Linked DNA regions of Homo sapiens. The protein of the gene in region 2 purifies or fractionates together with the protein of the main gene of each other region. This does not show direct contact. Each region holds a gene or a part of one and is shown on either strand. Other genes may lie near its edges.

The links. Proteins that work in one complex are often made in the same cells at the same time.
Region 1: the proteins of SLC31A1 (region 2) and CERK purify together in Homo sapiens (affinity purification with mass spectrometry; 2 studies listed by BioGRID and IntAct, with this or other methods). This does not show direct contact.

Annotation. Positions count from the first base shown.
Region 1 is NC_000022.11:46,688,893-46,694,149, forward strand, and holds part of CERK (ceramide kinase), read right to left. Parts: intron 4,612-5,257; coding exon 4,535-4,611; intron 2,886-4,534; coding exon 2,680-2,885; intron 1,309-2,679; coding exon 1,100-1,308; intron 1-1,099. UniProt on the Homo sapiens protein: Catalyzes specifically the phosphorylation of ceramide to form ceramide 1-phosphate.
Region 2 is NC_000009.12:113,261,236-113,265,717, reverse strand, and holds the end of SLC31A1 (high affinity copper uptake protein 1), read right to left. Parts: 3' UTR 1,226-4,482; downstream 1-1,225.

The sequences.
Region 1 (5,257 bases), on a different chromosome or scaffold from region 2:
TAATTTGCACGCCCACACCTAATTCAGTGGCCTTTTGAAAAAATCAACTTGCTTGTTACTGGGTCTTTCCATGGAGAAACAATTTTCTTTGCACTCAGATTCCATCTGGTTATGTGATACATCACAGACTTCCAAATACAATGGGCCCCAGTGGGTGTGGGGAGGACACCACTTCCCACCCTCCGCCCAGCCAGCCAGAGGAGGGGTGTGGCACCTGCCCCAGGGAGACCGAACATCCGTGTGTGGCCACACCTGCCTCCCCGCGTCCCCTAGGCTGCGTGGCCTCCAGCACGGGGCGTCCCTCTGGGGCTCCTCCTCTCCTTCCCATCCTCGGGGTGCCCTTCCCAGCCCTGCTGCCTCCTGCCCCTCCCTGCACGGAGCACCTGCACTTGGTGATTGACTGTGGCCCTTGAGGCCAGCGGTTCCCTGGTGGATTCAGTGGACAAAGGACTGCCTGTAAAGGCGGTTTCCTTTGTTTGCCTTTTGAAATTTTTTTGAGATGGAGTCTCGCTCTGTCACCAAGGCTGGAGTGCAGTGGCATGGTCTCGGCTCACTGCAACTTCTGCCTCCTGGGTTCAAGCGACTCTCCTGCCTCAGCCTCCGGGGTAGCTGGGATTACAGGCATGCACCATCACACCCGACTAATTTTTTTTGTATTTTTAGTAGAGACGGGGTTTCACCATGTTGGCGAGGCTGGTCTTGAACTCCTGATCTCAAGTGATCTGCCCGCCTCAGCCTCCCACCTTTTGAATTATTTAGGAGAAGAGAGAGAGAATGCCAGGGCAAAGAGCCCAATGCCAGCCTGGAGCACAGGGTGTGGAAGAGGAAAAGAATGAAATGGAGGAGCTTCAAACACCCATGAAAATTATCTGCAAAACAAAATGCTGAGGACTCGGCACCCTGGCATCTTTCCAGAATGTGGGTAACGGCATCTCATTCGATATTTGACATAGGGAGAGAAAAGTGCATTTATAAAACATTCTTACGTTTTGTGTTTATAAAGCCCCAGGGAACCCCCCACCCTGGGTGGGGCAGCTTGTGACAGACACCTCAGGGCTCAAGGGGATGGCGCTGGTGGCTGGAGGACCCCTGCACGCACCTGACCTCGATGGCAGGGCTGTGCAGGACCTCCCCGTCGCAGTTCCAGGAGCTGTTGGAGACGGTGCAGCAGCAGGAGGGGTGGCTGCTGCAAATGTGCCCAAAGCGCTTCTTCCCCCCCTCCTTGAGGTCGCTGTCCTCATCCTCCATGTGCTTCGACGTAAACTGGAATTTCTTGACGCGATAAACTTCAACAAAAGTGAAGTCAAACTACCAAGAAACAGTGAGAGGGACCATTCAGCTCTAAACGTCATCGTCTGGGTGGGGCAGCAGAACACCCCAGGCCTGACAGCGAGCGCTGTCAGGCCTGGGTGCACACACGGCCCTTCTCGGAGGATGCGACTGCTTGTGCAGGCCCCTGGAGTTCCCTTTCCAGCTGAACTGACAGCTCAGAGATGAAGGGAAACCTGGCACCCACCTTTCCCGGCGCCCACCTTCCCCGGCGCCTACCTTCCCCGGTGCCCACCTTCCGCGGCACTTGTCAAAATGACTTCTAATGCTTTTAGAAACCACAGCTTATCTACAATGACGAACGCTTTTTACAGAATTCTGATAAATAATTAGCAGTGATTATTAGAATTTTGTATTCTCTTTTTAACAAGCACTACTTAAAAAGCCACATAAAAATAGCATTAGACTAGATCTTAAATAGAACTTAAGTAAAAAAAGAAATGTGACTAAATTTGGAGACTGTGACCAAAAGTTCCGCTTCCCCCAACATGACTAGACTCGGGTCTTCCTCTGCATAGGCTACAGAAAGATGTGGTAGAAGGGTCCGAACAGAACCCATTTCTGGGAGCCTAAAGAGTCTATTTTCAGTGGCCTGCAAGGGCCACTTACATCTTTACTGTGTCGCTTTGTTCTGTTTTTAAATAGGAAGAGAAACAACGGGTAAGAAGTTGTATTATAAAGATTCATACCTCTTAGTTTCTGTGCTCAAATACATGTGTGTGTATATGTATGTATGTATGTGTGTGTATATGTATGTATGTGTGTATATGTATGTATGTGTATGTATATACACATATATGTATATATACACATACACACACATGTATACATACATACACACACACACACACACACACACACACATATATTTGAGATGGAGTCTCACTCTGTCACCCAGGCTGGAGTGCAGTTGCGTGATCTCAGCTCACTGTAGCCTCCACCTCCTGGGTTCAAGCGATTCTCATGCTTCAGCCTCCCGAGTAGCTGGGATTACAGGCGCACGCCACCACGCCTGGCTTTTTTGTATTTTTAGTAGAGATGAGGTTTCACCATGTTGCCCAGGCTGGTCTCAAACTCCTGACCTCGGGTGATCCGCCTGCCTCAGCCTCCCAAAGTGCTGGGATTACAGGCATGAGCCACCGCATCTGGCCTCAAAAATTTATCGTTTTAAATGATATTTTACAAGGAGTAGTTGTAACCAGGAGTTTAAAGTTTGTGAAATTAAAAAAAAAAAAGTTTGCCCTTCCTTCCCTTGAATTAAATAATGAATTCCTACAACACATAAACCAGGGACTGCTGGAACATAAATTACTCGCCAGTGGAGGCTCCATGCAAGAGCACCCCACTTACCTGGTCCTGCTGGTTGGTGTGCCTGATGAGAAATCTCAGAAAATTGAACCTGGAGCATTTCCGGATGAGGATGAGGTCAGAAGACCCGTCTCCCAAGTGGGCAGCCGGGGAGAGGCCCCTGGGGCTCCGGCGACAAGCACAGGACATGTTTGTGGCATTGATGGCCAGAAACTTCCCACAGACGACTTGCCACTCCTCCACGTCCTCTGAAGCACAAAGAACCACGGAGATGTCACAGTTACAATGGCGCCGGGCAGCGCCCTGCACCAGGACGGTGGGAGGCCATTCGGGCTCTCACCTGCTCATGCATTTAGCAGACACTTCATGCAATCGACTCTTCAGCTCAACACCAAAAACATCCACCACGGAACTGTCCGCTCCCCGCAGGAAGTGGTACCCAAAGGATCACCTCCCAGAAGGCAGGACTGTTGTCCCTCTCCTCACTTGGTGACTTTTGGACAATTTAGAACAAGGGTCAGCAAACCAAGGCTGTGTGTCAGATCCGGCCCGCCGCCCGTCTGTGTGTGGCCTGAGAGCTAAGAATGCTTTTCACGTTTTTAAATCCTTGAAAAAGGTCTGGCGCGGTGGCTCACGCCTGTAATCCCAGCACTTTGGGAGGCCGAGGCGGGCAGATCACCTGAGGTCAGGAGTTCGAGACCAGCCTGGCCAACATGGTGAAAACCATCTCTACTAAAAATACAAAAATTAGCCAGGCGTGGCGGTGCATGCCTGTAATCCCAGCTGCTGGGGAAGCTGAGGCAGGAGAACTGCTTGAACCCGGAAGGCAGAGGTTGCAGTGAGCTGAGATTGCGCCATTGCACTCCAGACTGGGCAACAAGAGTAAAACTCTGTCTTAAAAAAAAAAAAAAAAAAAAAAAAAATTAGCCAGGTATGGCGGCAGGCGCCTGTAATCCCAGCTACTCAGGAGGCTAAGGAAGGAGAATCGCTTGAACCCAGAAGGTGGAGGTTGCAGTGAGCCGAGATCGCGCCACTGCAATCCAGCCTGGGTGATGGAACAAGACTCTGTCCCAATAAATAAATAAATATTATTGACTGGGCATGGTGGCTCAGACCTGTGGTCCCAGCACTTTAGGAGGCTGAGGCAGTCAGATCACCTGAGGTCAGGAGTTTGAGACCAGCCTGGCCAACATGGTGAAACCCCATCTTTACTAAAAATACAAAGATTAGCTGGGCATGGTGGCACATGCCTGTAGTCCCAGCTACTAGGGAGGCTGAGGGAGGAGAATCGCTTGAACTCGGGAGGCGGAGGTTGCAGTGAGCTGATATTGTGCCCCTGCACTCTAGCCTGGGCGACAAGAGTGAAACTCCATCCAAAAAAAAAAAAAAAAAAAAGAAGAGAAAGAGAAAAAAATCAAAATAATAATATTTTGTGACATGTGGAAATTCTATGAAACTTAAATTTCAGTGTCCATAAATAAAGTTTCATCGGCAGATGGCCATACCCACTCACTGTACACTGCCTAGGCTGCCTCTGCTGGACAGAGACTGTGTGGTTGCCAGGGCCTGAGGTGGTCACCAAGCAAGCCCTCAATGGGACATCTGCTGCCCCCACATTCTAGAGCACCTGGGACAGGAGTCCAGACTCAGCACCACAACAGCGTTTCAGAAAGGGTAACGGGGCCTTTCACAAAACCCACTGCTCCACACAGCCACACACGGCAAGTAACAGTGACCTGACGCTGCCTGGGGCTAAGAAGAAATGGATGCCTGGTGCCAGACAGGAAAAAGGAAAAGCACAGGTGGGCAGGGAGAAGAGGCAGTGCCCTGAGAGAGGACAGAAACCCGCACTCCAGCACACACAGTGACAACACTGAGCCTGTGTTTTAGGAATTACCCGCAGCTTCCAAACCATACAGTGCTTTCTTCTGCTCCTCCTCCAGCTGCTGCTTGCTTTGCCTGCAAACAAAGCATCTGAAAGACAAGAATATCATCACCTTTTAAATATGGAGCTGCAGGTGCAGTGCGTATGCTTGGCACATATAGATGTATTTACATTCTTTTCACATACGAAAAAATTCCATTTCAAAGGCTTAACAAAATATTTTTTGGCATATTAATTAGAGGTTTCAGAATGAGACCTACTTTTACAATGACACATTCAACATGTCCTTCTCTAAAAGGTTTGGACATGAGGAGAAGCACAGCATGAGGACGCTGAGGTGCCACCTGGAGACGGTTTCTGCCTGGCCCTCCAGCTAACATAGCCTGGCTGGGAGAAATGACTGAGGCACTGGTTCCCCCAGCGGACTCCTGGGGTGAGGACTCATTTACTTTCAGAAAACAAATCATACAGGGTTTATCTGTTACAGTCAATAACAAGCAAATAACTCAGAACCATCAGCTTAGAACTTAGTCATTCGTCTAGCACGTCCTTCTGATCTTGGGGGCTGCCGGATTCACGCTGTCAAACAGGACACTGTTTGCACTGATGGAAATCGCTCATCAGCAGCCGAGTTCTTTAATGCACTGACGCAAACAGCATCTGCCTCTACATATTCTGATTTTATGGTCTCCAATTCTTCACTTAAAAAAGGAAAGGAGCTAGAAGGAGGTTCTG
Region 2 (4,482 bases):
CTATTTTGTGCTAGGTGCCTAATTCAAACAGGTATTATGGCCGGGCACAGTGGCTCACACCTTTCCCAATCCCAGCACTTTGGGAGGCCGAGACGGGCGGATCACCTGAGCTCAGGAGTTCAAGACTAGCCTGGCCAACATGGCAAAAACTCATCTCTACTAAAAATACAAAAATTAGCCAGACATGATGGTGTGTGCCTGTAGCCCCAGCTACTTGGGAGGCTGAGGCAGGAGAATCACTTGAACCCAGGAGATGGAGGTGGCAGTGAGCCGAGACTGTACCACTGCACTCCAGCCTAGGTGACGGAGTGAGACTCCATCTCTAAATAAGAAAACTAAGGCTTAGGGATCATTAGACTAACTTCCTAAGGTCATACTGCTAGTAGGTGATGGAACCAGAATCCAAACTCATTGACTCCTCTAAGTCCATGTTCATGACACTACACTCGGAAGAGACTAGGAATGGTGGTGATGGCAAGATGCCCACTGGGGGCCAGTGGGAAGAGCAAGTAACGTCAGCATTTTGGCATTACCAAAGGGACTGGCAGGGTCACTGTGCATCTCAAGGTTGGGCGGTGAACTTCTTATAGGCCCAGCTCAGAGCCTCTTGCCTAACAGCAGACACAGGGAAGGGATTATGATGTGACAAAAGTTGGCTTTTAAACTGAGGAATCCTCAGTATACTGAAATACTTGTGGCTTCATGAAGACCCTGTCTCCTGTGCAGAAGGTCACATGGATCTTCTGGCATGTACTAGGCATGTCATTTTAAGTCGAGTAGGGGGAGAGTGAGATGAAAACCTAAAAGGATCATACCACCTAAAATACGGACATCTTTTTTTTTTTTTTTTTTTGAGACGGAGTCTCGCTGTGTTGCCCAGGTGCAATCTTGGCTCACTGCAACCTCTGACTTCCGGGTTCACACCATTCTCCTGCCTCAGCCTCCCAAGTAGCTGGGACTACAGGCGCCCACCACCAGGCCTGGCTAATTTTTTAATATTTTTTTTAGTAGAGACGGGTTTCACCGTGTTAGCCAGGATGGTCTCGATCTCCTGACCTCATGATCCACCTGCCTCAGCCTCCCAAAGTGCTGGGATTACCAGGCGTGAGCCACCGCGCCCGGCCACAATATGGACATCTTAAAAACTGATGGTAATGGCCAGACTCTATGCAGACTATGAAAAGACTAGCTTATTGCATTATCACTCTGGGCAGAAAGACTTGCATAGAATCACAAAATCAAAATATTTATTTTGTTCTTTTTCATATGACACTGTTAAAACATTCCTACTACAGCAATACTGCTCTCCAGGAGCTTACAATCTAAAACAGTCAACATTAATTGTAGACCCAGTAATTAAGGCATTATATCAAATGCAGACTTTGTATCTTTTTTTTTTTTTTGAGACGGAGTTTTGCTCTTGTCGCCCAGGCTGGAGTGCAATGGCGCCATCTTGGCTCACTGCAACCTCCGCCTCCTGGGTTCAAGCGATTCTCCTGCCTCAGCCTCCCGAGTAGCTGGGATTACAGGCATGCACCACCACGCCCAGCTAATTTTTGTATTTTTAGTAGAGATGGGGTTTCACCACATTGGCCAGGCTGGTCTCAAACTCCTGACCTCAGGTGATCTGCACCCCCGCTTGGCCTCCCAAAGTGTGTGAGCCACTGTGCCCAGCCCAGAGTTTCTATCTTTTGATGTATCTTTTGAAGGAGCAGCTGGAGAGGGCAGGATCAAAATTAAATCACATGAAAGTGTACTCCCCTCCGCCTGCTCCTTATAAGGAACCCCTTATGACTAGAACCCAAGACCAGTACCCACAGCCTGAAAGGGAATTTCAGACAACCCTACCATAGAAGTAGTGAAGAAACCTTAATTTCTAATCTCCTAGTGGATACAGTGAGGATTCCATTTGTGGGCAATGGGGATGCTGGGAGTTCCTCCCTCACAGACTAGAGACGGCACCTAAGATTCTGTAACTCTGGGAAGGGTACCAGCCTTATAGAAATTCCAGTGGGTCAACTGCCTCTTGAAGCATGCTTAAAGTCTCTTAACAGGTTTATAAATGCCAATTTCTGGTTGGTATTATATCCACAGCATAGCACTGTCTACTGCATCAGGAGGGCTATGGAGACTTAATATACTAGACATGCGATTAAAAAAACTGAAAGAAAAGGGAAAGGACAACAGAGTAAGGGGGCCAAAGAAATGGTGATGCAGTCTTCTAATAGATGTGAATGGGGAAGGAAGAAAAGAGAAGTTTAGATCCAAAATGAACAAAGAAGTCAAGCATTAAATTCCAAATGAACAGGTATACAGAAATGAAAAGTTAATGAAATCATTGTATTATCACAATCCAAGAGCTCAAGATGGAATTTAAGCTTTTTCTCCTTCACTAGCTTCATCCTTTGGCAGCCAGTCTAAGAATCTCTGAAATTCAGGTTTTTCAGGAGATTATCTCTATCCTGAATACCTGAAGACCTAATCTAAACTGTTATTTCTTTCTGTGAATTTCAAAGTCATAGCATTTTGTCTTAACTGGCCTTGAATTTTCTTTTTTTCTGAGACAGGGTCTTGCTTTGTCACCCGGGCTGAGTGCAGTGGCGCAATCATGGCTTACTGCAGCCTCGACCTCCAGGGCTAAAGCAATCCTCCTGCCTCAGCCTCCCAAATAGCCAGGACTATAGGTATGCACCACCATGCCTGGCTAATTTTTGATTTTTTATAGAGATAGGATCTCACTATGTTGTCCAGGCTGGTCTCGAACTTCTGGACACAAGCCATCCTCCCACCTTGGCCTCCCAAAGTGTTGGGATTACAGGCATGAGCCATTGGGTCTAGCTGGCCTTACTGATTAGGTTTTGTTGCTGGGAGGGTATTCTATAGCAGCTCATGCTGAGATTTCTAGAGAGCACCAATGTCACTACTAACTATTGATTCCTATTTATTTCTCATGGTTTTATGACTCCTTGGCTTTAGACAACAGGCTGTATTATACCTTTGTGTTGGACTTCGTCAGTACCTGTCATTCACCCTGCTCATGTTAAGTATCATCATTACAAAGTGATGGAATGAGAGAAAAGCACAAAGCTCTAAATGTTGGTTCTTGGATTTTAACCTCAATCCAGTAGGCTCATAACCCTCTCTTGGTTCAAAGCCATACAAGTCCACATTCCTTGCTCTCCAATATTTAACTGGCACCCACAGAGAAAGTACAAACTTCAAAACCACAACACAGGCCAACAGGATAGCTGTGTTTTGTTTCCTCTGCCCTGAGGCACAACTGGATCTAGCACCAAGGAGGGCAGGATTTAACAGACCAGCACAAGACAAATCAATTTAAAGAGGTAGTTTGAACCAGGAATAAGACTGCAGTGTAGACTACAACTGAACAGAATACAAATCCAATGTGGTTCTTCACTGAGAACAGGGGTTTTGGCCACTTGTAATGTAATTAAACCCCCACGAATAACAAAGATGATTATATGGAGGATGAGGATCTGCTTGGTATAAGCACAGTTGTTGGAGCCTGAGGAAAACCTGGCCATCAACAAACCACAGCCTGAGTCTTTCCAAAGAGAAAGCTGGGCTTTTGCCCTTCTGGCCCATGACTGGTAGATTTACACTGCAGATCAAAGGTCTCTCTCAACAATCAAACTACTTCCAAGAAACCATAGACCTTTAAAAATAAGGACTAGTGATTTCATACAGGCTAGTAAAAATACTTTGGCTATAGCCCTTCACACATGTGTGCTTGGGTACACATACACACAGGTGGAGCTCAATAAATGTGGAATGATTAGGTATTGATCAGCAGTATTTACTACGTGAGTTAAGTCCAGACACACCATCTACCAATCAGCAATTCAAATTTCCATGCCCAATACCAGGCAGCCAACCCACCAGGCAATATTTCCTTAGCTTAAAGCACAGATTCTCAAAAGTGTGGTCCCTTGTAACATCAGCAGGAACTCAGAAGTGCCACTTTGGGGGCTTTTGGGTTGAGGCCCAGCAATTAGTGTTTTAACAAGCCCTACAGGTGATTCTGATGCACGCTAAAGCTTGAAAATCACAGTTTTAGAGGCAGACATGCGAAAACATTATAATGGAAAAATTAATTCAAACTCTCTTGCTTCACTTCAGCTGGGACAAACCAAGGTATCAAGACAAAGTAAACTGTGAATGGTTTTATTTAAAAATATCTATTTCTATTTTCTCAAATTGATTGTCATTTTTTGATTGGCAAGTTCATGCTAATCAAAGTGTTAAGTGGGAATGCAAGTCGATGCATCAGCCATCCAAGAATACACACTCTGCAAGTTCTAAGCCTGTATTTAGTCTCAAACCACCGCTCTGCACACTACAAAGATTTTGGTATAACGTATCACATCTAGAGAAAGGCACAATGTATTTCCCACTCATTGAATCCAAAAGCTGGACCTTCTTTTCTTTTTTTTTGAGATGGAGTTTCACTCTTGTCACCCA